Regions from separate parts of the Homo sapiens genome. Here region 2 is linked to region 1. Evidence: fine-mapped expression QTL. A gene starts in region 1. The other region holds a variant in brackets. All regions are shown on one strand. Distances are between the middles of the regions.

Region 1 (2,909 bases):
AGCCTTGCTAATTCAGCTGCGGAGGGAGAGGCAGGAGGAGGATCACTTTAGTTCAGGATGAGCTTGGGTAGATATTAAAAGAAATACAATCCTCTTACTGCATGGAGAGTGTGCATGTGTGGAGGGAGGGACTAGAGGCAGCCACCAAGCCTCTGGGCCTGGGGACAAAAGGGATCAGTGCCCCCTCTGCTCAGCAACTCATGGTCAGCCGGAACTGGGAGGCAGCCTGAGATTGAGATTGGGTCTGAAGAGGGAAATTCATTGCCATCCTGAGCAACATGGCAAATCTGACTTCCAGTAAAACAGGAAAACGCTAAACACCCCATATCCTAGGGACGGAAAATACTGCCACGTGAAAGAGAACACAGTTCAAGTGATACCAATCATGGGGCTCATTAGCCGGTGTTGATTTTCAAGTACAATGCTCAAGCTACAATATAAAGGAAATGTCCTTTGCTCAGGACACAAATGAAGACCTCAGGGCCGTCATATACAGCAGTCACCAGGGAAGCCAGGCAAGCCTGGTGCCTGGTACAACTCCCCTCCACCTGCTTTGGGCTGTGCTTGCTACGGACCTGGGTTTCATTCATGCACGTCTCTGGGGAAAAAAAATAAATTACTGTGCGCAATTTACTGAGGGACTTGCAAAACAACAGAGAACCCAATTTGTGCAATCTGGATTTTTTAAAATGCAATAAAAGGTCCTTCTTTGTGCAGAAATATGCAGAAAGGAACTATTAGGTTCAGGTCATATTTATTTTTGACCTTCTAAAGAAGGACACTGGAGTCAAAAGGGACACAAACATATAGACCAAAATTAAAAGTGTGTATATCTAGATCTCTGTTTTGAACTCCAGAACTCACCAGACAGCACTGTGTGATCACGATCCTACCCTATTGGTCCTGGGAGATTTTTGGTGGCTTCTCTGTTAAATCGTTCGTGTCTGCTGCACTTAAGTAGCCACAAAATCCCCCGCAAGAAGGAAGGCTGCTGCAATCTCCCGCCCCGATCTGCGGGCCGCGTCCCCGCGAGCTGCCTGCGGGCGCGCTGGGAGCCGGCCCGGGGAGATGCGAGCGCAGGGAGATGCGCTCTGCTCCGGGCGCAGCGGGCAAGCTGCCGCACCTCCTACTTCTGTTGCCTGGCTTGGGGCCAGGAGAGCGGCAACCCGGGGCCGGCTCCGGAGCTGGACATATCCGGCGTCTCCGGGGCCAGGGTCTGCGGGTCCCCGGCGCTGCGTCCTCCCGACCCGCTCCCCGCGGCGCCCGGGTCGCGCCTTGCGGCAGTCACCGAGCTGAGGGCAGGGCGTCCCAGCGTCCCTGGCCCCGGCCCCGCTCCGCAGCGCGCCGCACCCCGAGGCTCGGGCCCCGCACAGCTGCAGCCGGTGCCCTCCGGCCAAGCCCCCGCCTGGCGTCCCCGGCCCCAGCCCCGGCCGCCCGCCGCTGACCTTTTCCTGCGCGCGGTTGAGTCGCTTCTGGACGTTCTTGGCGAAGATGCCCGTCTTGATGTCGGCCATGGCTGCGGGTCCGGGGAGCTGCGAAGAGCAGAGCGCGCAGCGGGGCTGGCGGCGGCGCGGAGGAGCGGGAGGAGGAGCGGGAGGAGGAGGAGAGGGCCGAGCAAGGGAGGAGCGGGAGAAGCGGCGGGGAGCCGCGGAGCGCGGAGGGGTGAGGGCGGGGCGCGGCGGCGGGACCAGCTTAAAGCGACAGAGCGGGGGCGGGATGCGTCGGGACTGGCTGTGACATGGGGAGAAGGGGCGGGGGAAGAAAGAGAAAGAGGCCAAGAAAAAGAGAGGGAAAAGCCAGAAGCCAGATTGTCTCCTCGATGATAGAAGAGTTTCGAGAGGAGAAAGGGAACCAAGCCTAGCAGAAGTCCCTGGGCCCAGGGGCAGCTCGGGGGTTCTTTTAATGCAGTTTGTATTTGGGGAGAGTGAGGGGACCTGATTCTTTCCAGCAAAAAAAGAAATAGGGGAGACAAAAAAGGGAAGAACCCTAGGGATGTGGAAGCCAGCTGGATTGGAACTGCTCTGAAGTGGAGCTGATGGGGCTGGTCCCTTGCTGCTCCCAAAAGTTTCCAGCTAACAGAGGCCCCTCCATACACCCTGGGTGTTGCAGAAGAAGGTATGGAGGTCGCCCTACCCTCAGGAGGCTCACAGCCCAGTGAGGGGCCCTGGCTGGGAAACCAACGAAGTCAGAGCTGCAGGAGAGAGGCGTGTGGAGAGCAAAGCGGGGAGAGACCATCGCTGACACTTGTTTAAACTTTAAAACAAGAGTTAGCAGGGCGGGGAGGTCCGCGTTGAGAAAGGTCAGCTTCCGGAAGACAGGCGATGTGTTTTGGTCATCTCCAAAATTCCTGTGCTGGGCAGAAACCTTAGAATAGACTACTCTTCAAGAAATGGTGCATGGAACAGTCAAGTCCCTTATAGCTTCGCATCAACCATGGAAGACCCAGTCCCCCCTAACTTGTTGCTTCCTTGGAAACCTTTTGGCAACCTTAACAGGGACTCACCATCCCTATTATTCTTATTAATGCTTGGGAGAAGTACGAATAATAGGGATAAACCTGCCCTACACCTAGAGCTCTTGTTGGCTCTGACCAGTGGTCAAACTATTCATATTCCATTCTCACTGAGAGTGTGAGGAGAAGAAGTCAGGTGGTGCCCTGCAAACAGAGGTCAGAAGTGGTCACTCACAGTGAATCCTATGAGTCCAGGTGAGCATCCTACTGTACCTCTGGGGGAAACTGTTACATTGGTAGACCTCAGCGAGCTGCCACCTGGTGTTCACTCTTGTGTCACCCTGTAGTCCCCTCACCTTGATTCTAGAATGATGCTATGGCCAGCTTTAATCAATAAGATGTGGTGAAAGTGACGCCATGGTAATTCCAGTCCCCCCCCCACCCACCCAACCTAGAA
Region 2 (2,909 bases), 51 kb after region 1:
TCACCTCCTGCAACCCTCCATACCCTGAAGCCACATAGATTATTTTCCATTTTCCTACTGTGACATGTACTTTCATGCAGTGAGTTTTCATATTCTTTTCTGGAGTATTTTTTTTTGCCCTCTTTGCCTTTATACTTCCAGATGCTTCAACATTTAGCCCCAATAACATCCGCTCTGTGAGGTCCTTACTCATCCACTGTGAAGAGGTAGGCTCTCCTTAGTGTCTTACAGCGCCTATACTTAGCACAAACTGTATTTTTTCTTGGAGTTTTAAGGGGCCCAGAAAGTAACATCACTCTTCCTTGCTTAGTTCAAAGAGAGACACATTATTGAATTCCTGTACCTCCAGAGATTCAGTGAGCCTGAGGTGAAGACCACTATTTGTTAGTTTTAAAGATAATTCCAGATAACTTGAATGTACATTCAGTGACATCAGATGGAAATGAAAATATCAGCTTCATTACTGACAGACTGCACTCTGGAAGGTCAGATTTGTGTGTGGGCATGGGGGCTTAGTACCACACTTTTCTGTCTGAATTACACTCCCTTTAGATGGGCAGAACCTGCCTTGCTATGCTGTTTACCTGGAAGTAGAGTAGCAGAGAGCTTAACAGTAGGAATGGAGTGAGGGGAGAGAAAGAGAGGCAAAGAAGCAAGTCCATTTTTCTCTTCCAAACTCTTCATCAGATAATCCACTGTGACTGACCCCCAGTGAAGGGCTGAGGAGAGGAGAGAGGTGGAGAAAAGCCTAGCGTGGTCTGGTGGAAGTCCCTCATGGAAACATAAGAATTTTAGAATAAATGCCCCCTAAGAGTACTGTAATTATTTTTATATGATCATCTTACTCTATTTCCTAGACTTCTAGAATCCCAAAGATGGGATTTTTTCATTTCTTCTGCCTGGTACTAAATTCAATACATGTTTGTTAAATGAATGCTTAATCCTGAAGTGTTATTTAACACATTAGATTTTAAAGACAGTGATACCTCAAATTTTAAAATCAAACAGCTTCTAGTCATTTCAAATTCCCAGCAGTCTCTCTAATGTAATTACATGGTTTATTGGTTACGTTTGGACATTGTCTACAAGTGTTATTTGTGGTAGACTTTATCCCCCAGATAGCTGTGTCTTCCATCTATTTTTAGTTGCTTTCTTAATTTAAATTCAAATAGGACAAAAGCCAGGACCTGATGTCCTGCTGCTGTGTACATAGCTTAAGAATGATTTCTAAATATTTGCTACCTTTTGTAAGAGAAACAGACCTTGTGAGGCATCACATATCTAGATGGATTGGA[G/A]CCAGATGAGAAGCATATGGTCCTTATTTCCAAAATCCTTGTTTGCATTGGAGAGGGGTTGGCAGTTGAAAGCTGAAACCTCTCCTTCTGAATAACCAGATAAAGGGAAAGTGTCTGCCTACTCAAGTTGTGGAATAGCTTGGAAATCAGTAATGAAGAGAGGCCAAAACAGACCTCGGCTATTGGAGAGTAAAGTGGACAGAAAAAAGGCATTGAAACCAGAGACCTTTGGCTTGGAATGTCAGCAGGTCACTTACATCTCAGTACCAGTTTCTTCATCTTGAAGGGGAGTTAATATCACTTTTGCAAAGTTGGCTGTGATAACTGAGTGAGGCCAGGTGTGGTACCTGGCCTAGCAGACACCAGTCTCTGTCACTTATCCATTGGACTAATAGCACACCAGCATCATGGACTAGCAACTCTGCTTCTCTGTCAATGTTTGTGGAGACAGGGGTGGAGATGTTTTCTGAGCAAATTTATTTTTCAAGAACTCCTTCAGAGGCATTGCCCATATGTCCTATGGTTGATATTTTTTCATTTGTGAAAATGTAAACACACGCTTGGGCACTTTCACCATGTTACCATTGCTATACTGTTTACCTTTTTTACTTGAATGCAAGCTGTGAGTTTCAATGCTCATCTGGTCTACTTGGCTAGGATGACATTTATGCTACTTAGGAATGGTTGACATTTAGATCTTAGCAGTAACTGTTGGAACACTTCCAGGTTAATCTTGGATAATTGGTTTAAATCCAATTCTTTTTGTTTTTCCCTGAGAGGAATGATAAGAAACTATTAACAGTGATTCCTTTTGGGTGAAAGACACATGGCGGGAGAGGAGGCAGCCTCTAAGATGGCCCCCAAAGACCCCCACCTCCTAGTGTTCACCTCATTGTGCAATCCCCTCGTATCCAGTGTAGACTGGACTTACTAACTTGCCTCTAATGAACAGAATTCAGCAGAAGCAATGGATGTCACTTCCAAGATGAGGTTTTAGAAAGACTGTGACTTCCAACTTGGGTGTTTTTTTTCTTGCCTTTTCTCTCCTCTGCTCACTCAGAGGGCCTCTGATTCCCGTATTGTGAGCTGCCCTGTGCAAGACTCCTGTGGCAAGGAACCGGGGGAGGCCTGCAGGAAACCGTCTATGAGCAACCCAGGCCCTTAATCCATTGCCTGTGATGGACTAAATTCTGCCAAAAACCAAATGAGTGAGCTTGAAAGAAGACCTTCCCTTAGTCAAGCGTTTAGGTGAGACTGAAGCTCCAGTCAACAGCTTGACTGAAACCTCTGAGAGACCTCGTGCCAGAGACAACCAACTAAGCAGCAGCTAGACTTCTGACCCCGAGAACTGTGACACAATGGTGCTTTGTTATATTAAGCTGCTAAATTTGGGGGTAATTTATTGCACAGCAATAGATAACTAATAAAGGAAGAGATGATGAAAAGGGTAATAAAAAGCAGCTTTTACCTTTTATTTTATGCCTGTTTTACTGTATAAATTTTCTCATTTTATATATGTACAATATTTACTTTTTAAAATATTGTCAACAGGTGTTATTTAGGCCAGTGGATTATGGAAAATCCTGCAAATTGGCTCACTCAGTGCAAACTCCA

Direction of the effects. Positions count from the first base shown, and alleles are read on the strand shown. Sizes are in standard deviations (SD) of each study's normalised expression.
With allele A in place of G in region 2, the expression in ovary of the gene that starts at base 1,536 in region 1 is lower (moderate effect, 0.46 SD a copy in GTEx).

The links.
Region 2: its variant is fine-mapped to the expression of AMPH in ovary (GTEx, PIP 0.99).

The regions. Positions count from the first base shown.
Region 1 is chr7:38,629,838-38,632,746 of GRCh38, forward strand. AMPH (amphiphysin) reads right to left here and starts at 1,536. Exons shown (of 21, transcript NM_001635.4): 1 at 1,446-1,536. The coding sequence starts at 1,514.
Region 2 is chr7:38,680,795-38,683,703 of GRCh38, forward strand. No RefSeq gene overlaps it. Among named protein-coding and RNA genes, the nearest start is that of AMPH, 51 kb to the left of the region's middle. The variant G/A (reference allele first, on the strand shown) is at 1,296.